Linked DNA regions of Homo sapiens: all the other regions are reported to be linked to region 1. Evidence: microRNA targets listed by miRTarBase, many of them from high-throughput screens and not tested one by one. Region 1 holds a microRNA gene; each other region holds the end of a gene's coding sequence.
What was found. The annotated mature microRNA hsa-miR-193b-3p reads AACUGGCCCUCAAAGUCCCGCU and lies in region 1 at 3,336-3,357, shown strand. An mRNA with a match to its seed (bases 2 to 7 or 8) in the 3' UTR can be bound and repressed. Matches are read on the target gene's strand: a 7mer-m8 pairs with bases 2 to 8, a 7mer-A1 pairs with bases 2 to 7 and ends in A, and an 8mer does both.

Region 2: the mRNA of RAVER1 is a reported target of hsa-miR-193b-3p. The part of its 3' UTR that is shown has no 7-base or 8-base seed match.
Region 3: the mRNA of SESN2 is a reported target of hsa-miR-193b-3p. Seed matches in the 3' UTR shown: 7mer-m8 at 2,945-2,951.
Region 4: miRTarBase lists SCLY as a target of hsa-miR-193b-3p. The part of its 3' UTR that is shown has no 7-base or 8-base seed match.
Region 5: the mRNA of CIAO1 is a reported target of hsa-miR-193b-3p. Seed matches in the 3' UTR shown: 7mer-m8 at 3,187-3,193.

The regions. Positions count from the first base shown.
Region 1 is chr16:14,300,682-14,306,820 of GRCh38, forward strand. MIR193B (microRNA 193b) reads left to right here and starts at 3,286; the gene lies at 3,286-3,368. MIR193BHG (MIR193b-365a host gene) reads left to right here and starts at 700. Exons shown (of 2, transcript NR_170633.1): 1 at 700-850. RefSeq lists silencers at 1,344-1,833, 2,118-2,278, 2,184-2,423, 3,377-3,426 and an enhancer at 5,789-6,139.
Region 2 is chr19:10,313,557-10,319,695 of GRCh38, reverse strand. It overlaps RAVER1 (ribonucleoprotein, PTB binding 1), which reads left to right. Exons shown (of 13, transcript NM_133452.3): 10 at 456-530; 11 at 1,324-1,467; 12 at 1,923-2,006; 13 at 2,096-3,484. The coding sequence ends at 2,242. It overlaps FDX2 (ferredoxin 2), which reads left to right and starts at 3,681. Exons shown (of 5, transcript NM_001397406.1): 1 at 3,681-3,844; 2 at 3,937-3,991; 3 at 4,204-4,310. The coding sequence starts at 3,700. It overlaps FDX2-ZGLP1 (FDX2-ZGLP1 readthrough), which reads left to right and starts at 3,681. Exons shown (of 9, transcript NR_176052.1): 1 at 3,681-3,844; 2 at 3,937-3,991; 3 at 4,143-4,310. RefSeq lists silencers at 2,602-2,793, 3,927-4,046.
Region 3 is chr1:28,279,284-28,285,422 of GRCh38, forward strand. SESN2 (sestrin 2) reads left to right here. Exons shown (of 10, transcript NM_031459.5): 10 at 1,433-3,208. The coding sequence ends at 1,519. Among named protein-coding and RNA genes, the nearest start is that of SESN2, 23 kb to the left of the region's middle.
Region 4 is chr2:238,097,065-238,103,203 of GRCh38, forward strand. SCLY (selenocysteine lyase) reads left to right here. Exons shown (of 12, transcript NM_016510.7): 12 at 1,138-2,349. The coding sequence ends at 1,291. It overlaps ESPNL (espin like), which reads left to right and starts at 3,276. Exons shown (of 9, transcript NM_194312.4): 1 at 3,276-3,649; 2 at 4,877-5,067. The coding sequence starts at 3,356. It overlaps UBE2F-SCLY (UBE2F-SCLY readthrough (NMD candidate)), which reads left to right. Exons shown (of 19, transcript NR_037904.1): 19 at 1,138-2,349. RefSeq lists enhancers at 1-452, 453-1,120, 1,121-1,789, 1,424-1,718, 5,484-5,653.
Region 5 is chr2:96,270,108-96,276,246 of GRCh38, forward strand. It overlaps CIAO1 (cytosolic iron-sulfur assembly component 1), which reads left to right. Exons shown (of 7, transcript NM_004804.3): 7 at 1,004-4,066. The coding sequence ends at 1,244. It overlaps SNRNP200 (small nuclear ribonucleoprotein U5 subunit 200), which reads right to left. Exons shown (of 45, transcript NM_014014.5): 44 at 5,150-5,242; 45 at 4,231-5,048. The coding sequence ends at 4,905. Among named protein-coding and RNA genes, the nearest start is that of CIAO1, 7.0 kb to the left of the region's middle.

The DNA of each region.
Region 1 (6,139 bases):
GGCATGGTGGCGCATGCCTGTAATCCCAGTTACTCTGGAGGCTGAGGCAGGAGAATCGCCTACACCTGGGAGATAGAGGTTGCAGTGAGCCGAGATCGCGCCACTGCCCTCCAGTCTGGGCAAGAGGAGTGAAACTCTGTCTCAAACAAAAAAAAAAAAAAGAAAAAGAAAGAAAGAGGATGGAGAGGGCAGGGACACCACAGGCAGAAGGAGAGGAGGCCAGCTCGCTCCCCTTGGCTGGGGTCCCTGGGACCTCCTCTGTGGCATCAGGACTGCCCGCTAAGTTGGGTGGTGTGTTTTATGAGCGTGACCTGTGTTGGCCAACAGAGGACAGCAAAATACATTTTTTATGATCCTGGGAGGTTCAGGCCAGTCACGTTTTCGCGCAGAGAGGCTGGGCGGTGGAGAGGGACAAGTCATGTCTCAGTTATGTGGATTCTCTTTGCGAAAGAGGGGCCACTTCTGCAATGGATTTGGGGGTCCCTGGGCAGGGGTGTGGGGGTGGGGGAAGATTTTAGGAAGGGGATGAGCTGCTGGGGGGGGGCATCTCCCTTACTGCGGGAAATGAAAAGTATTACAGCTATGGCTGGTGAGAGTGTCAGCACCAGAGGCCAGATCTTTGCCAGGTGGAGGGGACACCCTTGTGCCCTACCCCCAAGTTCCAGCACCTCTCCAAGAGCCCTTAGCCCCGGAAGCAGCAACAAAGTGACATTGGACTGGGGAGGAGGAAGCACAACTTTATTTTCTGGCCCGAAGCTGGGTTGGTATTTGGGGGAGTTCTTGGGAACACAGTGTGTCTGTGCAATTTCAACCCTGGGGGATCCAGGGGACTCCAGCCATTCCAGAGGAGGTGAGAGACCGTCATGGGGTGGGTGTAAGAGGCTTGGGGAACCTGCCTGATGCTGCTCCTACTTTTACTGTTTGTTCACGGGGGTTGTGTGTGTTTGTGCGGCGGGGGAAGCGGGGGGTGCTGAAAATTGGGGGAAGGGCCAAAAGCGCCAGCTGGCATTGGCACTGGGTGTTCCCGAAAGAGGGGGACAGACCGGGTCTGAATCTTCAGTGGATGCGCCCCTAGCTCCCGGATACCTCAAGCGCCTTTGGAGGACTCCAGCACGCCCCTCGGGAGGGAAGCCCGGCCTCGGTTCCGTCTGTGGGCTGCGGTGGTACTGGAAGTGGGGACTCTTTCCCCCTCCTCCGTGCCCCCTGTTTGAAGCACCCCGGGCTCTGCCCCCCGCCCCCAGGGTCGAGGCTGACGTCGCCGCCGCATTTCTAGGAATGCCCCTATCCGCTGACTATATTTGGCGAGCGTTTCTAGGAAGGCGCCCCCCCACCCCGGCCCCCGCCCCCACCCCCACCCCCACCCCCACCCCCACCCCCACCCGGGCGGGCGCGCTAGGCTTCCAGGCTCTCGCCCTCTCTGCCTGGCCGGGGAGGAGCCGCCCCGCCGCCTGGGCCGCTGCCGCCGCCGCCTCCCCAGCGCGGCCAACCCCGGGCCGGCCCAGCCCCCGCCCCGGGCCGGCCATAGGGCGCTGGGGGGTTGGGGGGGGCGGGGGCGCGGCTTTGTGGCGGCAGCGGACCGTGGAGGCCGGGTGCAGCCCCGTCGGCTGCGCGCTCTCTGCAGAAAAGGATTTTCTACGCTCCCCGCCCATCACTTGGATCTCGTCTGGGGAGGGGCGGATTTTTTTTCTGGAAGTACCCTTCTTCTCCACGGTGGAGGATTTAAGGCTGGGCTCCAATCGAGGCGGAGGCTGCAGGGCCCGCGGGGCGCCCCCCGCCCGGCGCACGCCTGCCCGGAGCCCGGGAAGGCGCAGCCCTGGGTGGGGGGGCCCGTGCACCCCCGGAGGCGGCAGCGGCGGTGAGTGCTCCCCTTCTTCCCGCCTGGCACCTTCCGCCAGCCAAGGCAGGGATCGCGGCAGGTGGGTGCCCAAGCCCCCAGGGCCGAAGGGGTGTGGGGCGGCTGTCTGCGGGGTGGATGGGAACGGGAGAGGGGAGGTGGCGGCGGGGGAGCGCGCGGTTCTCTCGGGACTCGGCGCGAGACGCTTGTCTGGGCTGCGATTGCCGCCGCTGCCGCCACCCCGGCTCCCCCTCGGACCCCTCCCCCGCTCCCCAGAGGGGCGTGTGAAGCCGGGAGGTAGGAAGGGGGCGAGGCCGCCCCCAGCCTCCCTAGTGCCTGGGCTTGGAAATTGACGAGGCGGTGGAGCGTCCGCGTCCCCGCCCCCACCCCGGAAAGCCCGCTCGGGAAACTGACTCGCTGCGTGACCCCGATCTCAATGCCGCGCGCGGAGCAGGCCGGCCGCGCCCGCCGCTCCACGTGCGCCCGAGCCCCGCTGGCATGGGCGGCGGCGCCTGCGGGGGCCGGGCCCCGGGGATCCCGGACTAGCCGGGAACCACCGTCCCCAGAGAGTTACCGCCGCCCCCTAAAGTTGTCAGCTCCCTCCCCCCGAGAAGCAGGCAGCCCTGGCGCGTTGGCTTTAGCTTCTGCAGGACGGGGGCAAAAAAACTAGGTTCCGGGGTGCGGAGCGGGGTGTCTGTGCCCGAGACAACACCAAGTTAGGAAAAAGAAGTTAGAAAAAAAAAGAAAAAGGCATTTTGATTTGGGGGTGGGGGGAGTGGCGTTTCTGGTTTCTCTTTGCTTCCAATCCCCACCAAGCGGAGCGTTGGAATGCGCCGCTTATGTCCTCTGAGGACACATCCATATTTATAATTTATTTTTAGGAGAAGTTGTGAAAAAGGGAGGGGGGTTAAAATGAGGAGAAAAGGTGCGTGGGGGAGTGGCCTTTCCAGAACCTAGAGGCTAATTAAGCTATTAAAATGGAAATCATTTCCCCCAACTTGGGCGCGCAGCAAATTTGACTTTAATGAGAGACGATTAAGGACACAAATAACCAAACTTTATTTAGCTGGAGATGGGGTGGGGGGAACTGTACGAGGCACCTCGGACACCCGATTTATCCGCTGCTAAGGGACGTTTGGGGCACCCCTCGTGTTGTCCGGGAAGCTTTTAGGCCTGTTTGCTGGGCGAGATTGGTGATTGCTCCGGGAGGGAAGAGACACCCCGGGATCAAGCGATCCTCTTGCCCTCAGCCATGGTGTGGCAAATGTCCCCTCCTCCCACAGCGACCCCCTGGCATTTTGGTGAGATGAACCGCCGCCCTGAGGGAACACCCAGTAACGATTCCTTCAGTGATCCCGGTTCTCCAAACTCTTGCCTCAAAGGCGGCCTGCCCCGGTGCTGTCAGCCGTGAATGGGGACTCACTTCTTGGGAAAAGAGGCTTTTGGAGGCTGTGGTCTCAGAATCGGGGTTTTGAGGGCGAGATGAGTTTATGTTTTATCCAACTGGCCCTCAAAGTCCCGCTTTTGGGGTCATTCTGGACAGCGAGGGACTCAGGCCCCGGCAGTCTCGGGAGGGTGAGGGCAGAGAGCTACCACCCCCAGGGAGCGCGTCCAAAACCCGGCTGGCGGGGGGGCGGGGAAAGAGGGGGAGGTTTGCTACTTTCCATAAAACTAAAAGGTCCCTTCGAGGGCGGTATTCTTATAAGTGTGTGTTCTCAGTTTGCCGAACCTACTGTGTTTTCCAAGGGCTTCTCTCCTTGGGAGGCCGAAAAACGATACAAGGAGGAGAAAGTACATTCCCCCTGACCACCCCCACAGTGGTTTAAGGGACAGTATTGGATTGGAAAGGAATTAGTAGGATGTCAATTGTGGCAAAGTGTTTGAAGCCCCCAAATAAGGCGCTCCTGAAATGATGAATTGTAACGACATTAGATTTGTCTTTACGTTTGCTAAATTAGGAGAAACCAGCTGTTTGCTTCCACCTGGAATTGCAACATTTCTTTGCAACTCTTTGCTGTTGAAGGCGTTCTTTTTGTTCTGTTTTGTTTTGTTTGTTTGTTTGTTTGTTTTTTGGGGACAGAATCTCGCTCTGTCCAGGCTCTGACCAGGCTGGAGTGCAGTGGCGCGATCTTGGCTCACTGCAACCTCTGCTTCCCGGGTTCAGGCGATTCTCCTGCCTCAGCCTCCCGAGTAGCTGGGATTACAGGCGCCCGCCACCACGCCCGGCTAATTTTTTTGTATTTTTAGTAGAGACGGGGTTTCACCGTGTTAGCCAGGATGGTCTCGATCTCCTGACCTCGTGATCCGCCCACCTCAGCCTCCCAAAGTGCTGGGATTACAGGCATGAGCCACTGCACCCAGCCAGGCGTTTTATAGAAGGCTGGATAATACGTTCAGGGGAAGTCTCTAAAGCAAGGGTAGTGTGTATAAATCCCCGTCGCAGAACATTAACCTTCAGTTGTGTGTACACACACACACACACACACCCTATATAGTTGTAACCTATATAGACTTTCACACATCCTAAGTTATTTGCAAGTCTAGATTTAAATTAAGTCTACATAGCAGGGAATAGAAAAGTGAGCTGTACCTGGAAAAAACCTTTGAACACAGCGTTCTTGATACAAGATTTAGGATTTGAAAGACATGGCACATGTACACACAGATGACATTTGTGCTGCCTTGGCAAAAACAGTTCTTTACTTCCAGAGTTCTTTCTCTTTAGTATGGGACACGATGAAACAGCACAATTTTCAGGAGTCCACAATTCCAGCGAGGCGCGTGGATGGGAAATTGTCACGTTGTGAATTGTGTTTGTGCTTTGCTAAATCGCCACCCGGAGCTGACTGTCAAATCCTATTTGCTTTGCTAAATAAGGATATCTCATCAAATTAGCCTTTAATGATACTTCTACAAATAGGGTGTTTTACATGAATTAACGAGGCCGGAACACTGACTGTTTCTCCAAGATACTGAGCTATAATGGAGGCGACGAAGCCGAATGTTAAAATTACTGAATTGTTAAGTGTGCAAAATCAGACAGAATTTAGTGCTAAATGTGAAACAATTTCTGCTTTAATGGTGAGCATTCGCAACAGCACAAGCATTACTTATATTCAGCCGTCTGAAACTGTGCATGTAATTATGAATACATTTAACAAACTTTAACCCCCCTCTGAGTCTGGAAACAGTCTAGTATGGTGAAGAGATTATAAATCAGCATTTTGCAGTGAGAAGTCATCATTAATTCAGCAAAGAATCACAGCTTCTTTTCAGATCCTTCCCACCACCCTCCTACACACCCCCCTCAACCAATAAGGAAAAAAAAAATTCAGCATGGAACTGCTGGATACACTGAATATATTTTGGCTTTTCTCTTTTTGCCTCTGTGTGAGAAACTTCATTAAGCAGTTGCTGTTCCCTCCCCACCCCCGCTAACCCCCAAAGAAGTGTGGATTTAAGAAAAAAAAAAACAAAAAACAAGCAACTTTGAATTTTGTTCTTAGCAATCCCCAAGCCATAGCTGATCTCAGAGAGGCAAAAAAGATGTTTCAATAGAAAAGAATACGGTATGGCCAGGAGTAAAATATTTAGAGGTGGTTCTGCAATGAATATGATACTTCCTTAAAAATAAAATATATGTTGGTGATTCAAACCAATGAAAGTTGGAAAAGTCCCTCCAAGGGAACACTCTCTCTGTTTCCCTTCCCAGCAACCCCCCAACTTAACGTTATGAACAGAAAGATGGAAATTCTTGCCAGATCAACTATAGCCTCCTAACGATCAGCTCACCCTCCTTTAATTTTGATTGTGGAGCAAATACAGCTATTTTAGCCATGAGGATAAAAATGAGTGCAGTGAAAAGTTAAGGCAAACTTGGTACTTAAAATCACTCACCAGAATAAAGTGCGTGTACAAACAAAACATTGCTGATCAGTTACTTTAAGCAGGCATTTTCTTTCTCGCCTGAGCACCCCAAACACAGAAAAATGTAGAGTTCTTTTTGCTTCTTGTATCTGGAGCAGGTGAAAATAAACCCTGACGCTCACAAACATGATATAAACAACATACTTTTCAGGCCTAGTAGCCAAGCCGACTTTTCAGGGAAAGAGATGGACGTTGAAAGAATTTAGGAGTGGACTTGGGGTTCCCTCCATCACCCCATGCCCAGCTGACCCCTTCTGCCCTTCTCATGACCTCTTTTCAAAGCAGCCAGTGTTCAGATGCTGCCTTTCCAGCGTCCCCAGTTGTAGGGGACATATGCACATATTTACCAAGCTTTAAAATAAGGTTTCTGATTTTATA
Region 2 (6,139 bases), not on the chromosome of region 1:
CAGGAGAATCACTTGAACCTGGGAGGCGGAGGTTGTGGTGAGCCAAGATTGTGCCATTACACTCCAGCCTGGGCAACAAGAGCAAAACTCCGTTTAAAAAAAAAAAAGAAAGAAATTGCAAACTGGCCGCCCACAGGTCACCTGGGTGATGTTTGGCCCCCTCTGTGTTTCAAACAAATAACAACAGGAACTAACGCCAACACAGGAAAACTGCAAGAGTCCACACAGCTCGAATTCCCAGCTTGCCTGGGAAACTCCAAACACTTAGGCCCATGGGGGGCACCCCCCTTCACAGCAGCCATCCCTGCCAAGCTGCATCCAGCCCCAAATTTGCCTCTTCCTGGTCCCAGAGTGGTGGGGACTGTCTTCCCTGATGACAGCTCTGCCATGGAGTTCAGCCAGGGGTGAGGCTGGGACAGACTCCAACCCAATGTGCTTCTCCCGCTTTCATTCAGGACATGGGACCTCGGCGGCTCTTCTCCCACCCACGGGAACCAGCCCTTGGGCCTCACGGACCCAGCCGACACAAGGTAAGAGCCACCTGGTATGGCATGTGTAGCAATCAGCTTTTACTACATGACAGGCTGTGCCATGACTTAGTAGCCTGGAACAGCAGACCTTGTATTTTGTGTGTTCTTTGTGGGTTTTTTTAAGACAGGATCTCACTGTGTTGCCCAGGCTGGAGTGCAGTGGCTCCATGATAGCTCACTGTGGCCTCAAACTCCTGGGCTCAAGCAATCCTCCCACTTTGGCCTCCCAAAGTGCTAGGATCACAGGCATGAGCCACCATACCATGCCAGGCATTGTATTACTTCTTGCCACTCTATGGGGCAGTGGGCGGTCCCCGGCACTCACCTGGGTCTCAGTGAGCTATGTGGCCTCACATATTTGGCGTCCACAGGCTGGAACAGTTTCTGTGTGCCCATTCGTGCGGTGATGATCCCTGGGTTCCTGGAGGAGGAAGAGGAGGCGGGTACCCACGTGCCAGCTCTCCTCAGTCCTATTAGCCAAAGCTAGTCTTTGCAAAGCCCAGAACTGCCGGGCATGGTGGCTCACGCCTGTAATCCCAGCACTTTGGGAGGCCGAGGTGGGCGGATCACCTGAGGTCGTGAGTGTGAGACCAGTCTGACCAACATGGAGAAACCCCGTCTCTACTAAAAATACAAAAAATTAGCTGGGCATGGTGGCGCATGCCTGTAATCCCAGCTACTCGGGAGGCTGAGGCAGGAGAATCGCTTGAACCTGGGAGGCAGAGGGAAGATTGTATACAAAGGGCTGGGTACTACAATTGTCTGCTTCACTCCACCGGCCCTTCTTCTACAGATGTCCCCCCCGCCCAGTGGCTTCGGCGAACGGAGCAGCGGTGGGAGTGGCGGGGGCCCCCTGTCTCACTTCTATTCAGGCTCGCCCACTTCCTACTTCACCAGCGGCCTGCAGGCTGGCCTCAAGCAGAGCCACCTCAGTAAGGTGAGGAACCTCTCTGGCCAAGCACAGGCCCCCTGGGACAGCTAGGATTTGGGGGTGCCTGCCACCGGGGCTCTGTAACCCTCGGTGCCCAGGCCAAAGCTGGGGTGGTGGCAGGGGTTGGTCTTGCTCAGGGTGGAGTAGCAACAGCCTATTGTCCTCCATCCACTCTGCATCAAGCACCTAGCACTGCCAGCATTCCGGGCTTTCTGTCACTTCCTCTCTCTACAGCCCAGGCTGTGGGTGCTACTGGCCCCATCTGACAGATGAGAAAACCGAGGCTCAAATAAAATGGAGCAATTGGCCCTAGGTCTTATAGCTAGAAAGTAGCAGAAGCAAGATTTGAACCTGAAACTGTTCGCTTTCCCTCAGGGCTGGGGGGCAGTGGCAGGGGGGCGGGGTGGGTGCTTCCTCTGGCCCCCAGGGAGTGACCTGTTCCACCTCTCCATTTCTCCCAGGCAATCGGCTCTTCCCCGCTGGGGTCCGGAGAAGGGCTCCTGGGCCTCAGCCCCGGGCCTAATGGTCACAGCCACCTGCTGAAGGTACGGGCAGGGGGTGGGGACATGCAGGGCTGGGAAGCCCCGGCCCCCCAGCGGCCCCTGACCCGCCCCGCCCTGCCCTCTGTCTCCAGACCCCACTGGGCGGCCAGAAACGCAGCTTTGCCCACCTGCTGCCCTCGCCCGAGCCCAGCCCAGAAGGCAGCTATGTGGGCCAGCACTCCCAGGGCCTCGGCGGCCACTACGCGGACTCCTACCTGAAGCGGAAGAGGATTTTCTAAGTGGCTGGCACCAGAGATAACTCAAGGGCCTGCACCAAATCGCTTTTGGGTTTTCTGATGTTTTGTTTTGTGTTTTTTTTAAACCATTTTCTCTCTTTCGGTAATAGAAAAATCTCTGAAAGACTTTACTGACCAATCAGCCGGAGCCCCAGGAGCCCAAGGGGTGTGGGGGAGTCTGGAGGCCTCATTATGTCTCTGGCTTGCTCCCCACGCTGAAACCCTGCAGCCTTAAGAGAGAGGGGCCCCGGCCTGCTCTCCCTCCCTCCCCCCATCTCCTCCTCCGCTGTGCCCGTCTCTCCGGAGCCCTCCTGCCTCATTGCTCCTGTAATTTTGGCCTTTCGAGTGCCTTGGAGGTTTCCCTGACCTCCCGTGAAGATACAGAGACTGTCTCCTTTTTTTTTAACTTTGACAACTGACTTCTGTTTCCTTTTCTAAGTTTTATTTTTCAAACCACCCCGGACAGCCCCCAGCTCTGATTCCTTCAAGGCCCGGCCTGTCCGGGCCACCATTCCACACCTTGCGGTTTGAAACAGCTGTTTTTCCCACATTTGCTGCAGGCATGGCTGTCTCCTGCCCCTGCCTGCCCATCTGGCCTATACCCCAGCCGTGGGGCCCGGGGTCCCTGCCGCAGCCCCCTCCCCTTCTGATGCCTTAAAAGCTGGGCCCCAGGCCCTGCTGGCCAGAGCCACAGATGCCAAGCTCTGGGAGCTTGACTATGGACCAAACAGCTCTGGCCTAGGGATTGGGCCACCCTACCCAGGATCTCCACCCTGGGGACAGTAGAAGGGGAAAGCCTTCATCTTGGCGAACCGGCCCCACCACCCCCTCCTACCCGGGCCTCCGTGCAGAGATGGGCTTTCTCTGCCAGTCCCCTGCTGTCTGTCTGTGGGAGTCGGACATTGTGCCCATCTCCCGGAGCCTCTGCTGTCACTCGCTTGTTGAAGATGAATTCTTGAATTCTGCCTGCCCACCCCCGGCCAGATCCCTGGAGCTGGCCTCCTTCCAGCCCAGTGCCAGAAACCAGCACTCCATGAAGATAAACTCTGGGCCCGCCCACCAGCAGGACCTGTCGACCTGAGGTGACCCTGGGCCTTGCCCCCAGCCAACTGGGCCACCAGCTTCCCTCCCTTGACTCTGGGGGTCCACATCCACTCCAAGGGGACTATTCCCCCGACCCCACCCCAGTCTCCCCACACGGACCTTTGCTGAATTAAAGTTTGTAAGTAAATGGTTTTAAAGAAATCAGAGTTGGCTGGTTCTTGGGACAAACAGTGGGCTTGAGTGGGAGGTCTGGGATGGCCCCGCGGGTTTACCTGAGATGGATTCCGCCCTGCTCTTCCCACCTGGTCACCGCAGGCCCTAAGCAAACATCTGCGCTTATGTTCCATTGATTATGGGCTTTCCCTCGCCTCCCTGGCGCGGCGCATGCTCAGTCGGTGAGTCACGTGATGCATGTCATGGCCGCCTCCATGGCCCGGGGAGGCGTGAGTGCCAGGGTTCTACTGCAGGCTGCCAGGGGCACCTGGTGGAACAGACCTGGGGGCACTTCCGGGTCGGGGGAGGGGGTGGCGCTGGGGACAACCAGAAAGTTTCAAGCGACAGGTACCTGGGGCGCCCGGGGCGGGCAGCGTTAATCCGTCAGATGCCGGCGGGGCGGGGCTCGGCGCAGCCGCTCACCGAACCGTGTTTTCCAGGCTCGCGCCCGGCTGGAGAGGAGGACGCGGGCGGCCCGGAGCGGCCCGGGGACGTGTGAGTGCAGGGGGCCAAGTCCCCCATTCCTCATCCCACGGAATTCCTCTGGTCCCCATCTTGCCCTGTAGCTTCATCTCGAGGTCCCCCTTCTGCTTTGCCCTATTCAGTACCTGTGCGTCAAGCCTCAATTCCTACTTCCTAACCCTAGATTCTACCCGGGCCCTGAGCCCATCATCCAGTTCGGCATTCGCACTTCCATCTGTCCCCAGGGTGAACGTGGTGTTCGTAGACCGCTCAGGCCAGCGGATCCCAGTGAGTGGCAGAGTCGGGGACAATGTTCTTCACCTGGCCCAGCGCCACGGGGTGGACCTGGAAGGTAGGAACCGGGCAGAGGGAATTAAGGAGGTCCTTATACATTTGTCCAAAAAAAAAAAAAAAAAAACCCACAAATTAGGTGTGTCTCTTCACGTCTTTTTCCCACCAAATATGGACTAAAATCCAAACCCCTCACCATGGCCTCATCTGTTGCCAAGCTCTTATTTGTTAAGCATTTATTAGAGATCACTAGGACTCCTGGCTCCCAGGATTTTGTGTTCTCTTCCCCCTTCCTCCCTGTATTCTAGCCACATTGGCTTTCTTTTTGTTGTTGTTGTTTTGAGATGGAGTTTCACTCTTGTTGCCCAGGCTGGAGTGCAATGGCTTACTGCACCTCAGCTCACTGCAACCTCCACCTCCCGGGTTCAAGCGTTTCTCCTGCCCCAGCCTCCAGACTAGCTGGGATTACAGGCGCCCACCACCAAGCCCAGCTAATTTTTGTATTTTTAGTAGAGACGGGGTTTCACCACATTGGCCAGGCTGGTCTCAAACTCCTGAAAGGTGATCCACCCGCCTCAGCCTCCCAAAATGCTGGGATTACAGGCATGAGCCACCGCGCCCAGCCCACACTGGCTTTCTTGTGGTTCCTCAAACAACCAAGCTCATTCCTGCTTCGGGGCCTTTACATTTGCTGTTCCCTCTGTCTGAAGTGCTTTCCCAGCAAACATTCTGGCTCTTTCTCATCCTTCAGACCTCAGTGTAAATGTCATGTCCCTAACAATCCCATTCCCCTCAGCCCAGCTGAAGTACCCATGCCCTAGTTACTCTGTCTTATCAGTGTGATATGATATATAGCACTTCTCACTTTTTTTTTTTCAAGAGACGGAGCCTTGCTGTGTCGCCAATGCTGGAGTGCCATGATGCAATCATACCTCACTGCAGCCTTGAACTCCTGGGTTCAAGTGATCCTCCCACCTCAGCCTCCCAAGTAGCTGGGATTATAGGCACAAGCCACAATGCCAGGCTGTTTTGTTTCCTACTTTGTCATCTGTCCCCCAGTGAGATTGGTGACCCATGTCCTTATTCATGCTTATCTGTTGCCTGTCAAGATGTAACAGATGTTTGATAATTTGTTGAGAGAAAAATAATAATAGAAATTTCTTGTCCAGGCACAGTGGCTCATGCCTGTAATCCCAACACTTTGGGAGGCCGAGGCAGGCGACTCACTTGAGGACAGGAGTTTGAGACTAGTCTGGCCAACATGGCGAAACCCTGTCTCTACAAGAAACACAAAAATTAGCTGGGCGTGGTGGCACATGCATATAATCCCAGCTACTTGGGAGGCTGAGGCACAAGAATCACTTGAACTTGGGAGGCAGAGGTTGCAGTGAGCCAAGATGGCACCACTGCACTCCAGGCTGCATGACAGAGCGGGACTCTGTCTCAAACAAACAAAAAAAAAAGGCCAGGCGCGGTGGCTCACGCCTGTAATCCCAGCACTTTGGGAGGCCGAGGCGGGCGGATCACGAGGTCAGGAGATAGAGACCATCCTGGCTAAAATGGTGAAACCCCGTCTCTAATAAAAATACAAAAAATTAGGTGGGCGTGGTGGTGGGCGCCTGTAGTCCCAGCTACTCGGGAGGCTGAGGCAGGAGAATGGCATGAACCCGGGAGGTGGAGCTTGCAGTGAGCCAAGATCACGCCACTGCACTCCAGCCTGGGCGACAGAGTGAGACTGTCTCAAAAAAAAAAAAAAAAAAAAAAAAAAAAAAAAATATATATATATATATATATATGTCTTTAACCATGTTAATAAATATTCACTGACTGAATCTTCATGACAACTTGAGTAGTAGAGACTGTTATTCCCTATTATAGATGAGGCAACTA
Region 3 (6,139 bases), not on the chromosome of region 1:
AAGCCAGTGGAGAGGGCAAGGGGTTAGGACCCAGTGAGAGTCCCCAGACTGAGTCTGTCCTGCTAGGTGGGACACCTGGGCCTATTCCTCTGGATTGAAGTCCTATTCCACTGTGTGATTTCAGAGTCTGTTTACTCACCTGTAAAATGGGAATGAGGGTGCCTGCTTCACATTAGTGGTAGCTTGGTGGACCTGGGTTCAAATCATAACACTATCTCTTGATAGCAGTGTGACTTTCGGCAAGTCACATTATCTCGCTGAGTTTTTTTGTTTTTTTTTTTGAGATGAGTCTCCCTTTGTTGCCCAGGCTGGAGTGCAGTGGCACGATCTTGGCTCACTGCAACTTCCACCTCCCAAGTTCAAGCGATTCTCCTGCCTCAGCCTCCTGAGTAGCTGGGACTACAGGCGTGTGCCACCATCCCCAGCTAATTTTTTGTATTTTTAGTAGAGACGGGGTTTCACTGTGTTAGCCAGGATGGTCTTGATCTGACCTTGTGATCCACCTGTCTCGGACTTCCAAAGTGCTGAGATTACAGGTGTGAGTCATCGTGCCTGGCCTCTCTGAGCTTTTTATCCTGTTTTTTTTTTGAGACAGAGTCTTGCTCTGTTGCCCAGGCTGGAGCGCAGCGGTGTGATTTCGGCTCGCTGCAGCCTCCACTTCCTAGGCTCAAGTGTCCTCCCAACTCAGCCCCCAGAGGGCCTGAGGTACACACCACCTGATTTTTTAAATTCCTAGTAGAGATAAGGTCTCACTGTGTTGTCCATCCTGGTCTCAACCTCCTGAGTTCAAATGATCCTCCTGCCTCAGCCTCTCAAAGTTTTTTGTTTTTGTGATGGGGTCACACTATATTGTCCAGGCTGTATTTGAACTTCTGGACTCAAGTGATCCTCTCACCTCAGCCTCCCAAGTAGCTGGGATTTCATTTTTATAATGGGAATAAATACTGCTGTATTTCAAGGTTGCTGGGAAGATAAAATAAAAAAATGTACATAAACCTCTGCAACCTCTGTCTCCCGGGTTCAAGTAATTCTCCTGCCTCAGCTTTCCAAGTAGCTGGGATTACAGGCATCCACCACCATGCCCAGCTAACTTTTTGTATTTTTAGTAGAGATGGGGTTTCACTATGTTGGCCAGGCTGGTCTCGAACTCCTGACCTCCTGATCCACTCGCCTTGGCCTCCCAAAGTGTTGGGATTACAGGCGTGAGCCACCGCACCTGGCCATTTTACCTTTAGGGAATACAGAGCTTAGTCATGATAGGAATGAATGTGCTTGTCCTTGTACTAAACTGCTCAGAGCCTTAGCAGATGCTGGGGCAGCTCTGTAGGAAAGGAAATGGTGAGGTAAGTGGGTCAGGGATCAAGGCAGTCTGGGAGGGGTGTGGGGGTGAGGAGTGACATCAGTTGCCAACATGCCTTCCTCTGTGCCCCAGGTCCACGTGAACTTGCTGCTCCTGGAGGCGCGCATGCAAGCCGCTCTGCTGTACGCCCTCCGTGCCATCACCCGCTACATGACCTGACTCCTGAGCAGGACCTGGGCCCGGTTCAGCTCCCCACAAGGACTTCTCTGTCTGGAGACAGCCCCAGACCCTTTTGTGTCCCATGCCCACCCTCCCCACGCTGCAGTGGGCTTGTGTGTGATGTGCAGTCCCGAAGCCACACCCTCCCTTTTCCTCACTGGAATGGACAGTTCATTGCACTGACTCTGGGATCTCAGCCCTGCTCCTGGGAGCTGGAAGAGCACTTGGAGATCCTAAGGGACCACACCCTTCCTCCTTCCCCTGCCCACAGAGGCAGAGGGCACAGGAAAGAAGCCGGGCCAAGCTCGGAATTAATGTGCCACAAGTGTTGTGGCCTTCCTGAACTGGGAAGTCCCTGGCTGGCCCCCGGGGGAGAGGGGCAAATGCCTCCGGGACTGACACTCCAGGCAGCTTTGCCTTCTCTCCCCTGTCATTTCCAGATTTCATTACCTCCTACTTGCCATTCACCCATCAATGTGAAAGTCAGGGTCACAGCTGGTCTGTGTGTCCAGTTCCCTAAAAGCCTGTTCTGTTGGGCAGCCTGAGGCTGTTGCCCGAATCCTAGTTCAGTTTTTTGACTTCCTTTGCCCTTTTTCCCTTTTCTCCATGCTTAATGGTGTGAGGCGTCAGGAGAGAGGCCAAGTACATAAAAAAAAAAAAAGCAGATTATCTCTAGAGAGTTTGAGCCTTTGCTGGTCACATTGCCTTCTGAAGAGGAGGGAGTATTAGATTATAAATCCTCTTTATTTTGGTCCTTTATGCTTGAGGTTCCAACCTGGAGCCACAGTGTGTGAGAGGAGGAGGAGAGGGAGAATTCTGTTCTCCCAGAGCTGCACCTGCCTCGCAGAGGCCAGCACCCCACTCTCCTGCCTCCAGTGGCCCTGCCGCAGATGTCTCCCAAAAAGTTGAGCCTTTCTAGATGGCTTAGGTGGCACCATGGCTCAGCAGGAGGGGCGGGAGGCACCAGGGTTCTTGTTTGGACCCTGCCCCTGGGCCATGGCCAGGTGACCATGGCTACATTGCCAAACCTCTGACTGCCACAGCTGCAGACTGAGAGGGTGGGTCTGAGTCCCCACAATGTCTGAAGCTGCCCCTGGGATTCTCAGGCCAACCTGCCAACAGCAAGCGGATTTTCTTGCAAGATCAGGGACCCCATTTCTGCAGCCAGTGTCTCCTGGGTGCCTTCTGAGGACTCCCACCCCCATCCCAGTATCTCATCTGTCCCCTCTCCTGGGGCTTAAGTGGGTTGCTTCCAGGCAGAAGCAGCCAAGGACCGATTCCAGGCACTTTCTGTAGCAAATGACTGTGAATTACGACTTCTCTTGCCCTTCTTCTAGCAGTCTGTGCCTCCTCTCTGACCAGTTTGGAGGGCACTGAAGAAAGGCAAGGGCCGTGCTGCTGCTGGGCGGGGCAGGAGAGGAGCCTGGCCAGTGTGCCACATTAAATACCCGTGCAGGCGCGGAGAAGCAACCGGCACCCCCTTCCGGCCTGAAAGCCCTCCCTGCAAGAAGGTGTGCAGGAGAGAAGAGGCCCCGGCATGGGGATCTGGGTTCTAGAGGGCATGTGATGACTGTAAATGTTCACTGGGTGGGTAGGGAGTGGTATCCAGTGTTCAAGTGCAGAAATCTTTGGCTTTGCTACCAGTTCCATATGATGAGAAATAAACGTTCGCTGAGGTTTTGTTTCATACTCCCTTTTTATGGGCTGTTCTTTCAATTTCCTGAAGGTCATGGTTCACCTTGTAGCATAGGCAGAGAGCTGTGATTGCATCATGGGCCTGACCTGATAGCCCCTGCCCTGCCGAGAACTTGTGCCCAGTGATTGTAGGTTGGGACTGTTGGCACTGAAAGTCTACTTGTCCCTTGGACATCCAGTCCTGTCACCCTTCTGCGGCTGCCCTGGCACTGTGGAGTAATAATGACCATGGTGTTTTTCTAAGCCTGGCCATGGGCTGGGTACTTGGAGACCATTCCTCTGAATTTGCAGCAATCCTGTAGGAGAATTGAGACGGGTGAACTGACGTTGTTGAGGCCACATGGCTAATCGGTGGGGGAGCCAGGATTCCCCCCTGCTCTGCTTGACCCTGAGGCCTTGACATTTTACCTTGCTGTTTTGCCCACTACTGGACTTCCCCTGTGACAAAGAGGCTGTTTGAATCTGGAAGGACCCCCTTGTGTCCCCAACCCCACCACATTATGATTACCTGCTTCTCATCCTACCGCCTCCAGCACCAAGGAGACAACGCCAGGAACAAAGAGGTGCAACCCCCAAGCTGTGCCAGTGCCGTTTATGGCTGTGTGACCTTGGTCAAGCTTCTTAACTTCTCTGGGTACCAGGAACTAGTTAGCTTACCAGGAAAACCACATCATGTAAGAGCTAAGACCACTCCCGCGGGCTTCCTACTTCCTATAAATACCGCTGTCAGAACACTAGGTCTCTTCCAGGCAGCCTCCCCTAGTGGACTTTGTGTTCCCCTTCCCCTTGAGGTATCTGTTCATTTTCGCAGGATTCCTATACACTTCCCCTTCCTCTAGAGTCATTTGAGAGGGTGTGGGAGAAAGTGAATCACACTTGGAGTACAAAACCTGGATTCTGGTTCTGATTGAGCCACTCACTATATCGCTGGGGAGATTGATTAATTTCCCTGTGCCTCAAGTTTCCTCAGCCATAGAAATGGGGATAAAAGTTTTCCATTTCTTTTCCAGTTGGCATGCATTGGGTGTTTGTTTGAGATGGAGTCTCGCTCTGTCACCCAGGCTGGAGTGCAGTGTCACAATCTCGGCTCAACTGCAACCTCCATCTCCCAGGTTCTAGCAATTCTCCCACCTCAGCCTTCCTAGTAGCTGGGATTACAGGCACATACCATCACGCCCGGCCAATTTCGGTATTTTTAGTAGAGACAGGATTTCACCATGTTGGCCAAGCTGGTCTGGAACTCCTGAGCTCAAGTGATCCACGTGCCTCAGCCTCCCAAAGTGCTGGGATTACAGGCATGAGCCACTGCGCCCAGCCTATGTGGCATGCATTGAGTGTGACTGTTGCCAAATGTTTTCAAATTTAATCTCCCAATCTTCACAACAACCCTGTGAGGAAAGGGTCTGTTCCCATCCTATAGATGTGGAAATGGAACCTCAAATGAGAATCTGGGGAACACCAATTTAACAGACAGACCCAAATTCAAATTCCAGCTTTGACATTTAATGTCTGTCCGATCATGAGCAAGTTGCTTCAATACTCCCTCCTCAATTTCCTTATCTATGGGATGGAATTAATACCTAAGGTTACAAGAGGGTTGTGAGGATTAAATAATGCATAAAAACCACCTAGCACAGTTCAGGTACCTGGCATCTAGCATTCGCAAGCTGTTCAGGATTCAGAAATTTGCCCAAGCTCATGCGACTGAGGTAGAATTTGAATCCTTCTCATTCTGATTCCAGAGTTCTTTGTATTGCTTTTTTTTTTTTCTTTTTGAGATGGAGCTGGAGTGCATTGGTGTGATCTCGGTTCACAGCAACCTCCCCAGGTTCAAGTGATTCTCCTGCCCCAGCCTCCCCATGTTGCCAAGGGTGGTCTTGAACTCCTTTGCCATGTTACCGAGGGTGGTCTTGAACTCCTGGGCTCAAGCGATCTGCCCGCCTCAGCCTCCCAAAGTGCTGGGATTACAGGTATGAGCCACCATGCCCAACCCTGTATTGCATTATTTTTGTCTCCAAAGTGCCTAAATCCTCAATATGCATTTAAAAAAAAATAATGGCTGGGCACGGTGGCTTACGCCTGTAATCCCAGCACTTTGGGAGGCCAAGGCGGGTGGATCACGAGGTCAGGAGATCCAGACCATCCTGGCTAACACGGTGAAACCCCAACTGTACTGAAAATACAAAAAAAAAAAAAAAAAAAAAAAAAAAAAATTAGCCGGGCGTGGTGGCGGGCACCTGTAATCCCAGCTACCCAGTATTATTTAATCCTCACAACCCTCCTGTAACCTTAGGTATTAATTCCATCCCACAGATAAGGAAATTGAGGAGGGAGTATTGAAGCAACTTGCTCATGATCAGACTGATATTAAATGTCAAAGCTGGAATTTGAATTTGGGTCTGTCTGTTAAATTGGTGTTCCCCAGATTCTCATTTGAGGTTCCATTTCCACATCTATAGAATGGGAACAGACCCTTTCCTCACACGGTTGTTGCGAAGATTGCGAGATTAAATTTGAAAACATTTGGCAACAGTCACACTCAATGCATGCCACGTAGGCTGGACTACAGTCCCAGCCTGTAGGCAGGAGAATGGCGTGAACCCAGGAGGCGGAGCTTGCAGTGAGCCAAGATTGCGCCACTGCACTCCAGCCTGGGCGACAAAGGGAGACTCCTCTCAAAAAAAAGAAAAAAAAAATCATGTTTATTAGGCTGGACCTGATGGCTGACACCCATAATCCCAGCACTTTGGGAGGCCGAGGCAGGCGGATCATTTGAGGTCAGGAATTCAAAACCAGCCTGACCAACATGGTGAAACCCCGTCTCTACTCAAAATACAAAAATTAGCCAGGTGTCGTGGTGGGCGCCCGTAATCCCAGCGCCATTGCACTCCAGCCTGGGTGACAGAATGAAACTCTGTCTAATAA
Region 4 (6,139 bases), not on the chromosome of region 1:
TAGGACTTGTGCGGGAGAAGAGGGCTTCTCGTGCTCAGTTCTGAAGGCGGAGGGAGGGCAGGGCCTGGAGGGCCAGCGTGGCCGGGGCTGGGGAGGGCTGGGGCGGGCTGGGGTGGGCTGGGGTGGGGATGGCCTGAGTGTCAGTGCTTACTTAAACCTCATGGAAGTGGGAGCCCTGAGGGCCATGGTGTGAGCAGACTCAGGTGTCAGATCAGCCATCTGCAAGATGCAGCAGAGATTCTCAGATAGCAGGGCCCGGGTGAGCGGGTGGGCTGCCTGGCGGAGACTGTGGGGTAGAGGGCGTGGGGTGCCCGAGCAGCGGCCTGCTGGCAGCAGGGGAGAAGTGGTTCTGGGTCTGGTCTGCTGAAAACGTGAGGCCCCTGTGGGAGGTCGGAGTGGACGCAGGAGGAACACTCAGGGTTCTGGGGAGAGAGCGGAACTGTAGCCAGCAGCACGTGGCCATCAAGGTCAGGGCAGAGGGATTGTGCAGGAGCACCTGGAGCGAGACAGTGGTGGGCCTGGCTCCAGGGAAAAGGAGGGGCAGGATGGGGCCCTTTGTTGGGGGGACAGTGCCCTGCTGCAGGAGGGGCAGGGGAGGAAAGGGACCCGGGTGTGATGAGGTCAGGCCCCTTGACAGAGCCCACATCTCGAGCCTCCAACAGCCTTGCTTCAGGATGTCCCCACGCAGTCATCTGTTCATGGCTAGATACTGACTGGGTCCCTAGTGTCTGCAAAGCCCCATGCTAGGTGCCATGAAGTTACCAAGTGGCTCAGGTGGGCCGCATGGGTAAGGCACTGTCTGTGTCGGCATCCGTGTTCTCCAGGACCTCAGACCCCTCAAGGACAGGAGAGCCCCTGGCCCCAGAGCTCAGTGCGAGAGGGAGGCAGTGTCACCTGGGAGTGCCAAGTGCAAGAGAACTCTGCAGGGAGAACGGGGGCGACTTTGAGCCACACCTTGATGTGGGTGATCTTAGGGGTGTGCTTGGTCTGGGAGTTTAGCAGGAGGTGGATGCCAGGCGAGGCAGGCGCACATCCGGGTGGGCAGAGCCCCACTAGGGGAGTGGTCCAGAGCAGGGGGGGCTGTGTCTCTTCCATGTGCCCTCAGCAGCAGCTGCAGCTCGGTCTCGCCCTCCCCAGGCCGTCCCCAGTGCTGCTGAGCTACGGTGTCCCCTTCGACGTGGCCAGGAACGCGCTCCGGCTCAGCGTGGGCCGCAGCACCACCAGGGCCGAGGTGGACCTCGTCGTGCAGGACCTGAAGCAGGCCGTGGCGCAGCTGGAGGACCAGGCCTAGCACTGGGGCCGCCTTCCCCACCCCGCTTCTGGGAAGCCCGTGGCAGGGCACAGGGTTGTCCCTCCAGTTCCCTCCTGAGGGCTGTGCCAGGATGACTGTCTCATGCCCCCTCTGCATTTTGTCCTGGAGTGCCAGCGAGTGTGCACCCCCAGTTTCCTTCCCTGGACCCCTGCAGAGCTCACAGGGCCCAGGACACCAACGCCGCATAGGACTGCCCACATGGGACCGCCCACATAGGACCGCCCACATAGGACCGCCCACATGGGACCGCCCACATGGGACCGCCCACATGGGACCGCCCACATAGAACCGTCCTCCAGTGGTGAAGCGGAAACACTTAGCTTTATCCACCCTCCCCACTGGGAACTGGGCACGCCTGTTGTGAGTGCCCTTTCCTGGAAGGTGTTTTTATCTGGAAGATAGAATCCAAGTATTTATAACTCATTGTCAGCCAAATGCTATCATGAACGTAGGAAACTTGATTTTTTTGTTTTGATCATGGCCTCTACATGCACCTTTCCAGAGTGGTCTCTTCTCAGGCCCTTTTTAGTCCCTTTCCAAAGCTGCCCCCACCACCCTGCTCCTCTGGCCTCAGTGCACAGTGGCCCCCAGCCTCGGCCAGGCCTGCTCTGCTCAGCGCCCACCGCCCACCACCCCTCCTGCTTCCCCGAGCCTGACCCTGTTCCGCCCACTGGCAATCAGGGCTGCGCACTTCCCTGTCCACGGTCCCCAGGCCTTCCTGTCTTGTCCCTTTTGATCATTATTAACTCAGGGTTTCAGCTCCAACCTCGCTGAGTTGGTGCAGCTCCAGGTCATTCCTGGGGTGGGAATCGGATCATCCCTGACTCAGCTTTTACCTTAATTTTATTTGCAGAGGATTCTTTTCTCAAAATGCTCTGGCATTTGGACACACATCACATGTCGATATTTGCATAGGAGTCATTTTCAGTGGAATAACATTTTTAATGTGTGGTTTTACGGTTCAAGGAACTACTTGATGATTTTGAGGAAACACTTGCCAGAAACTAAATTAACGAATAAAAGATTTCAGTGCCCGACTTGGGGATCCTGTGGTTTCTCTAGTGGGCACTGCGCTTGGGCACAAAGTCATCTGACAGAGCCTGTCGGGGGGAAGCCAGGGGTGCAGCAGCCCCCAGGTCACCATTGTGTGATGATGCGTTAGCCCAGAAATCCAGCTTGAGGCTGTGTCTCCGGAAGCCCCTACAAATGTAATGGGTCCCCCATCTGCAGCTTCCCATTGCTGCCAGGAAGAGGCTGTGGTGGTCCTGACTTCCCTAAAGAAGAACTATGGATTGTCCAGAACAATCTGGAAAGGGGTTAAATGTACTTGGGCCCTTGGGGCTGCAGCCCAGAGACTTGGTCCGTGTAGTTGGAGAGGGGGCCGAGGCAGGGGCTGACACCTTCTCGCCTCAGAGGCCTGGACACACCCAAGTCAGGGTCCTGAGCCCATTGCAGGCCCCGTGGAGCCACTGTGTCCCCAGAGATTCCTAGGAGCCTCCAGGGCCGAGGGCCGGGACCCAGAGGCGGGGCGCTCAGCTCTGTGGGTGTCAACACAGCCAAACATGTAGACCTACTGGGCACCCTTTACTTCAGACACACTGTGGTGGCGGCTGGGGGTCTGCCCTTCTGTGAGAGTTGGGGGAACTGTCTCCCAGGCCACTCGGGGCTCCTGTGAGAAGCTCAGTGGCGTGTATCCTCAGCCCTCGCTCCACAGATGAAGTTCCTGCCATCTGGACAGATCTGAGCAGCCTCAGGGCCAGCCTCCTTTCTCTGCTGGCCATACCCAGCCCTGACCTAGCCTGGTGTGGGCCTTTCCCTGTGCCCTGTACTCCATCCTCCCAGCTCCAGGCACCTGGCACCCTCACACTGTGGGAGTGGCTTGGGCAGGTCCTCAAGGCCTGTCCCCCCACCCGACCCCACCCCACCGCCTCCCATCTGCCCTGTGGCAGCTTATCGGGTAACCAGAGCCGGCAGCTTCATCCACGTCTGAAACAGGAAGCCCCAGCCTGTGCATGAGTCGCCACTGAGAGCCCGGGCCAGAGGATGGAGAAGCAGCGGGCACTCGTGGCCGCCAAGGATGGGGATGTGGCGACGTTGGAGCGGCTGCTGGAGGCTGGCGCCCTGGGCCCGGGCATCACCGATGCTCTGGGGGCCGGCCTGGTTCACCACGCCACCCGGGCTGGCCACCTGGACTGCGTCAAGTTCTTGGTGCAGCGGGCCCAGCTGCCCGGCAACCAGCGGGCCCACAACGGGGCCACCCCAGCGCATGACGCCGCTGCCACGGGCAGCCTGGCCGAGCTGTGCTGGCTGGTCCGCGAGGGGGGCTGCGGTCTGCAGGTGAGCGGGGATGGGGCAGCCTGGCTCCACGAAGCTGGCTGGGGTGGAACCAGGGAGGTGTGAGCCACGGAGGATCAGAGTACTGGCCACCCCGGGCTCCATGGCCCTGGGCCCTTTGTTTCTCTTGGGGACTCAGTCAGTGGTTACCGTCTCTGCCCCACGCCTCTCAGAGCACAAAGGCTTGAGAGCCAAGAACACCTCCTAAATTTTCTTATCACCTTCCCTGCCAGGAAGCTGGGCGTTGCCAGTGGGGGTCTTGCCAGATATCAGGACCCCTGTCTCTGATCAGGCCTGGTCCACAGGGCCTGCCTCCCAAAGGGTCTAGAAAGGGATCCTTACAGAAGCACTGTGGGAACTTGGGCTTGAGAGCTGGGAGCCTAGCCCTGGGGGACGGGAGTTAGGGCTGCTGATGGTGATCGTCTTGTCCGGATCGTTTCTACTGGGCCCCCCTCCCCTATCCTGCCTGCCCAGTCCCCTTTGTGCAGGCGAGGCCCTTAGAGCTGTCGCTCAGCCCTGTGGAGCTTTCAGGGCTGAGGGTGAGCAGGACTGACCGGCCTTAGAACGCCGCCGCCCAGAGGTCAGAGTTGAGGTGGGGGCCGGTGGGGCCTGCTTAGACTGCGGAGCGGGAAGGTTCCCCAGCACCTGGCTCGCCAGAGCACCTGAGAGTCCCGGCCCAGCATCCTGTTCCTGTCGGCCCTTCCGCCAAACCCAAGGGCAGCAGGCGGGAGCTGTGCCTGCCTGGGGATCCATTCTGACAGGGCCCTTGGAGAAGGCCCAGGTCTGCTGGACCCCTGACACCTGTGGTAGGAACGCTCCCTGGCCCCGGGACCCTGTGGCCAGCGGGAGGGCACTGGGGCAGGGGACCAGCCAGAGGTAGGTGTCCTGGGAAGCCTTTCTGACCATGAGCAGAGTGGGCAGGTGTCTGCGGGCACCCGACTGCGTGGGAAAGGGCCTTCTCCACACTGGGGACGGGCCCAGGAGAGGGCAGGGTTGCCAGAGGTGGCCTCCCAAGACCTGGACCTGAGTCCTGGCCCTCCTCTCACCTCAGTCCCAGCAGGGAGCACCTCCCTCCATGTTGCAGGCAGAAACGGAGGGAAGGAGGAAGGAGCTGGAAGCCCCTTCACTGGGTTGCAGGCAGTGTGAGCCCTCGCCCAGGGCCCACCTCCGGCAGCTGGCTCTGACCTCACGGCCTACCCCCCACTCACTGACCTACCCGGGGCTTGGTAGGACCAAGATGCCTCGGGCGTCTCCCCGCTGCACCTGGCCGCCCGTTTTGGACACCCAGTGCTGGTGGAGTGGCTGCTCCACGAGGGCCACTCGGCCACGCTAGAGACCCGGGAGGGAGCCCGGCCGCTGCACCACGCTGCCGTCAGTGGGGACCTGACCTGCCTCAAGCTCCTGACAGCCGCGCATGGCAGGTAAGGAGCCCAAAGTCCCGCCTGGGGGGGCAGCCTGGGGCGAGCTGGCCAAGGGGAGGCTGCACCATGGAGGGCCAAGAGGACAGGCTGGTGGCCTTTGAGGTGAATCCTGCAGGCGGGCATGCTGTCACTGTGGGGGTGAGCTGGCAGGAGCCAAGGGCAATGAGGCCTCTACCCACAGGCCAGGCAGTGGCAGTGCCATGCCAGGGCCCAAGGGGACACAGGCCAGTGCTTCAGCTTGGAGAGTGGCTGGGGGCGGTGACGATGGCAAGATGCTGCTGTGATGCCCAGGGCAGCTCTGGCCCCACCTGGGGGCATCTCGGGACCTAAAACAGCTGGGGACGTGGGCAGCTGGCAACCTGTGAGGGCACCCTCCCATCACCTGACAGGAGTGGGGACTGTCTAGTGGACTTGGGGACACAGAGGCTGGAGCTGCCTCTGCACTGCCCCACCCCTGTGCTGGGACCCCTAGAGCCGGGCGCTGGCCTCATCGTCTCTGGGGCCCTGTGCCCCCTGCTGGAATTAGTGGATGGGCAACGAGGAAGGACCAGGGTCAGGACAGCCAGTAAGGCAGATGGCCTCCCTCCCCACCTGGAAGCTCCTCCAGTCCTCGCCCTGCTTACAAAGGTCACTGTTGTCATAGGAACAGGCCCTCTGCCTCCTACTGTCTTGGCTGAGGGCGAACCTTCCTGTCCCCCAGGGACCCACCTACCTCTGACCACGGCTCTTCTCTTTTCGAGGCAGCATCTCATTTTCCTGTCGCTGCCCCAGAGGCCTCAGTCCCCCACACCCCCTTAGCTCCAGGACAAGCCCCGACAGCTTGCTTGTGGAATCGGGTTCTCATTCCCGGGTGTTCCCATCCTGGACTGCTTGGCAAAGGCCTTTGGGATTCGCTTCTGTGGCTTTTCTCCAGAGCGTCCACACCACCCTCAGCCTTGGCTGGCCACAGTCTCTCTCAGACCCACACGGCTTTTAAAGAAGTTTCCACCATTGAAAACTGGGAGACTTGGGCCGAGCACAGTGGCTCATGCCTGTAATCCCAGCATCTTGGGAGGCTGGGGCTGGAGGATTG
Region 5 (6,139 bases), not on the chromosome of region 1:
TATTAGCAAACATTTGGGAATCACCTATTCAACAAAAGTGAACTTAAGTAAATTATGGTAGAACTCAGCTTGTTGTATCACTGTTTAAAGAAAGGGGTTAAGAATACTTTATGATGGGGCCAGGCGCTGTGGCTCACGCCTGTAATCCCAACACTTTGGGAGGCCAAGGTGAGTGAATCATGAGGTCAGGAGTTCAAGACCAGCCTGACCAACATGGTGAAACCCCGTCTCTACTAAAAATACAAAAATTAGCTGGGCGTGTTGGCACGCACCCAATCCCAGCTACTCAGAGGCTGAGGCAGGAGAATCGCTTGAACCCGGGAGGCGGAGGTTGCAGTGAGCCGAGATTGCGCCACTGCACTCCAGCCTGGTGATGGAGCAAGACTCCATCTAAAGAAAAAAAAAAAAAACTTTATGATGGCTGGGCCCAGTGGCTCATGGCCTGTAATCCCAGCACTTTGGGAGGCTGAGGCAGGTGGATCACTTGAGGTCTGGAGTTTGAGACCAGCCTGTCCAATGTGATAAAACCCTGTCTCTACTGAAAATACAAAAATTAGCCGGGCATGGTGGCACATGCCTGTAGTCCCAGCTACTCAGGAGGCTGAGGCAGGAGAATCGCTTGAACCTGGGAGGGGGAGGTTGCAGTCAGCCAAGATTGTGCCACTGCACTCCAGCCTGGGCGACACAGCAAGACTCCATCTCAAAAAAAAAAAAAAAAAAACAACTTTATGACATGGGAAACTGCTTATGCCAAGTGAGGAAAGTGCAGTTCATAATTGCATGTCGTTTTTTAGGATAATCATAGTAGGGGAAAGAACTAGATTGCAGCATCTGAAGATATAAGTGGGTGATATTTGTGACTCCTTATTAGTTAAGGAAACATTTTAATAAGAGGTTTTTAGCTGAGGCCTGAAGTTAGGGAAGAGAACAGGCCAGGAACTATGGAACAGGTCTCTCTGGCCTAATTAGTCAGGTATACCCACTGATGTCACTTTCCTTCCAGGTGTCAGCTGACAGGGGCTCTGGCCACAGCTTGTGGGGATGACGCGATCCGCGTGTTTCAGGAGGATCCCAACTCGGATCCACAGCAGCCCACCTTCTCCCTGACAGCCCACTTGCATCAGGCCCATTCCCAGGATGTCAACTGTGTGGCCTGGAACCCCAAGGAGCCAGGGCTACTGGCCTCCTGCAGTGATGATGGGGAGGTGGCCTTCTGGAAGTATCAGCGGCCTGAAGGCCTCTGAGCTACCTCGACTTTGGACAGAGTAATGACTCCCCAGAAAACGTCATATAAGACTTTACCAGCCCCTGAGAGGACCAGGAGGAGCATCCTTGACCTTCATTTAACTTGGCTCACTTCTCTTCAGACTTGGGTAGAAGTGCAGAGCCACAGAATTGCTTTCCTTCCCCGCCTTTGACATGAGGCCTTCAGTAAAGAGCTACAGAACATGAGTACATTGTTATACCACAGATTTTTCTTGCATTAGGGCACAGTGTTAAATTTTTTGGAGGTAAATATACTATTTATAATCACTATATATAGTAGGAGGGGGTATGTGTCTCAGGCTTTTCTGAAGTTGCAAGACTTAAAGAAATAATCCATCTGCATCCCAAGTCCTATTTTATAAGGATATTCATAAAAATTCCATGGTGAATCCTTGTCTGAAATAGGTCCTCCCTTCCCAGTTTCTGTGTAAGTCTTTGCATTTAAGACATCCAATCAATAATGAAGGAAATTTTTTTCTGAATGTAGGTTTGAGTGAGGGGCACCTCTGCTTTCCCTTAGCAACCCTCATATACCTCCCTGCACCGTTACGCTGTGATGGCAACTGGGGATAGAAAAAAAATGGGGAAAGACAGGAATCCTAAAAGGGAGAGTTATTACTGGCCACAAGCCCTGTATTCTCAACAGGGATGCAAATTGGTTCTTCAGTAAGGATAAAAAAAAATCACAAGCAGTTGTTTGTGGCCCTCCTAAGGCCCACAGCACATATAGTGTGTCTGTGATATTCCATTTTCATGGCAGGGAGTGATCAGGAAGAAGGCTTCCTAGGGGACTGGCGATTTAAACCAGTTGAGAAACACTGCCATCAGCAGGCAGTTTCAGACTCACTCAAGTTGTCTCTTGACAGTCACTTCTAAATGGGTTCTAATGTGACAATGGCCTCCAAAACTACAGCCTTCCCTGAAGTTTAAGCTGTGACCTTAGATTTTAGAAGGACAGTGGGGCTGTACCTAGAATAGTGGTTCTCGAAGAATGCGGCCTGCAGATCCTGGGAGTCCCAAGACCCTTTCAGGGAGGATCTGTGAGGTCAACTGTTGGCACTGTGGCATGAATCAAGGTGGTGGCAGCAAACTTCTAGTAGTTTTGATATGTCCTTGATAGAACAAATAGCAATGGTTAACTATTAAATGTTGACCTAGCCAGCGCAGTGGCTCATGCCTGTAATCCCAGCACTTTGGGAGGCTGAGGCGGGCGGATCACCTGAGGTCGGGAGTTCGAGGCCAGCCTGACCAACATGGAGAAACCCCGTCTCTTCTAAAAATACAAAATTAGCTGGGCATGGTGGTGCATGCCTGTAATTCCAGCTACTCGGGAGGCTGAGGCAAGAGAATCGCTTGAATCCGGTAGGTGGAGGTTGCAGTGAGCCGAGATCATACCATTGCACTCCAGCCCAGGCAACAAGAGTGAAACCCTGTCTCAAAAAGAAAAAAAAAGTTGACCTTGAGAATTTATAATATTCTGAGAAAACTGGAAGCATGCATAAAGCCCCTCTGCTGTGCACTGAAGTATGGGTGCCTTGAGGAAAAGCAGTTACACAGTTGAGTTGCAAGCTGAATTGGCTGTGTTCAAGGCATGCCCTTTAGAATTGAAAGAACTAGCAGATTACGGTATTTAGACTTGAATATTTGGCTGATATTTTCTGGAAATTAATGGAATGAGCCTCTCACCTCAAGGGAAACAACTGATAGTGTTGCCAGTGATAAAGCTTTCAAGCAAAAATTGGAATTTCCGAAAATCTGTACTCCACCATGAGCTTTATTGTTGGGGATATTAACAAATGTGATTTGTATAATGAAATGCATTTCATTTGGAAGAATTCAATGAACCATTTTTCCAAGTGACCAGTACGTGATGTTACAAAATCATGCATGGCTCAAAGATTGATTCAAAAGTGTAAGACAGGCCAGTGGATTTTAATGTATTAACAATATAAGAGTGCATTAAGTTTTCGGAGTCTACATTGCCTTTAAGAAACTATGACTTGTAGTAAGCCGGGCGCGGTGGCTCACGCCTGTAATCCCAACACTTTGGGAGGCCAAGGTGGGTGGATCACAAGGTCAGGAGTTCAAGACCAGCCTGGCCAATATGGTGAAAGTCCGTCTCTACTAAAATTACAAAAATTAGCCGGGCGTGGTGGCAGATCCCTTGTAGTCCCAGCTACTCGGGAGGCTGAGGCAGGAGAATAGCTTGAACCCGGGAGGTGGAGGTTGCAGTGAGTCGAGATCGTGCCACTGGACTCCAGCCTGGGTGACAGAGCGAGACTCCATTTCAAAAAAAAAAAAAAAAAAAAAAAATCACTTGTAGTCTTGGTGTGGTATCAAAGAATAGCCACAATTAGCTGAAAAGGCTATTTTAAAAACTTTTCCAACTGCGTATCTGTGTGAAGTCAACTTACTTCAACAAAAAAGTTTGGATGTAGAAGCAGCTGTAAGAATTCAACTGTTTATTATAACAAGATACTAAAGAGACTGTAAAATGCCACCCTTCTCCTTGGATTGTTTTGGAAGTTATTCTTCATAAAAAATGTTAACGTGGGCTGGGCATGGTGGCTCATGCCTGTAATCCCAGCACTCTGGGAGGCTGAGGTGGGCGGATCACTTGAGCTCAGGAATTCAAGGTCAGCCTGGGCAACATGGCTAAACTCTGTCTCTATTAAGAAAAAAAATGTTAACATTATGATTTAAAAGTGCATTAACCTTAATCTAGATAATAAAAGCTTTTTGGGGCAACCTCCAGAACTGTGAAAAATAAATTTGTTATTTAAAAAGAAAAAAAAAAAAACAAAAACCTGAGTTTCTTAGTTTTTAGTAGTGTAAAGAGGTCCTAAGACCAAATCATTTGAAAACTGCTACCCTGAGGAAACTGCCCTTCAGAATCATCTTTCAATTTTGTGTGCATTTAATCTAAAGAACAGAAGGTAAGAATTTGAAGACAGTCGGAAGATCTGGATTAGAAAACCTGTTTATTAAGACTGGGTCACATCCAGCTAGTACATTTCAGTGCCCTTTCTGGTGCTGCCTCCCAGGAGCAGACACTGCAAATTTCAGAACCCCCATCTAGAGAAACCCCTAACCTGTGATCTAGCTTCCGAGGCTCAGTGTTGGTTCTTGTGGTAGTGCTGATGTGTGGGTACCACTGAGGCCAGGCCACAGTCGCATGTACCCTCCTCTGGGCTGACTCACGAGGCTACAGGGGACAGCACACCTAATGAGCAGGTCTGTCCTCCAGACATACTCATTAACAAGCACGTTCCTGGCTAAAAAATAACCAGATCTTTTTGGCCGTGCCCTCAGGTTGGAGAAAGAAAACTTTTAATTTGGAATCACTACAAAGACAAATGGTTTCTACAAATTATTTTATTAGAATGTCAGACTCAAAAGAACTACCAGGAACATGCCTGAAAATGCTATATATGATTTATGCTTGACCCATGACACCTGCTGTCACTGGATCCAGAGTGAGCAAGGGAAAGGAAGTGGAGGTAGGCGGGGACAGCACCAGCCCTGGCTGGCCAGACCTGAGGCCCACAGACCTGGTCCCCACAACCAGGATTCCTACAATGTACACATTCCTAATTCAGGCTCAACTCTCCTTTACCCAAAAGTAAATGCCTCAGGACTCAATCTGAATCACTGTCTGTCTCAGCTTCTTTCACATCCACGCTGAATTTGTACTCCTGGTCACATCCCATGTAAGCGTCACTCATGAAGTACAGAGTGTAGTTGTGGGCACCAGTGGCTGGGGCCACAAAGTCCAACTTCACCTAGAAAGAGCAGGCAGAAATCAAGATGAGCATGGACACAGGAAGCATTCTCACCCTTCCCCCATGCCAGAACAAATGCTAGGGCCAGTGGACACACTCACCTTGGCCTTCTGCTGCAAGGTCAGCCTCTTGATGGAGATGAGGCTATTGGACTTGGCATCTCCAATCACCACCCACCAGCCCTCTTCACGTTTCTGCAGTGATCCAAAACCAAGAATTTCAGCATGTAAAACTTGATGACCATAGGCAACCATGAAAATGGTACAGTTACAAAAGAGAGAACAAAAATCAGATAGCTTTCCAAAGTTTCTTCCCGAAATACAATTAGATTTAACATTTTAATACTATCAAAAGTTGTCTCAAACAGACTTAATTTTTTAAGTAGATGAATTCATTTGTTGGTTCTGGCTCATTTCCTTGTGCCAAGGTACCTTCTCCCACTTAGTACCTGCCACTAAGTCCAAGGTACTACTATTAGAGGTCTAGTCTTTGGGGCCTAGGAGCTTTGAGTTCCTTAGAGATACTTTTAAGTACAAGGCAAATCTGCCAGATGAGAAAAAGCTTAGGCTGGGCGCGGTGGCTCACGCCTGTAATCCCAGCACTTTGGGAGGCCGAGGCGGGTGGATCACGAGGCCAGGAGATCGAGACCATACTGGCTAACATGGTGAAACTCCGTCTCTACCAAAAATACAAAAAAGAAATTAGCCGGGCATGGTGGCGGGTGCCTGTAGTCCCAGCTACTCGGGAGGCTGAGGCAGGAGGATGGCGTGATTCCGGGAGGCGGAGCTTGCAGTGAGCCGAGATCGCGCCACTGCAGTCCAGCCTGGGCGACAGAGCGAGACTCCGTCTCAAAAAAAAAGAAAAAGCTTAACACAGAGCTGAATGTGCACAGAGATATCCACAGCAGGCCTTGCAGCCCTGTCTACGGGCTGCCCCGCTGTCACAAAGACGAAGAGTCCCAGTTAAAAGCAGTCTTTACTCAGAGCCTTGAAACAATTAGTTTACAGAATTAAACATGACAGTATCTGGTTTCTGCTATCAACCTTCAATTATTCTCCCATATAAAGAGAACCAGAATTTCTTTCTGGTGG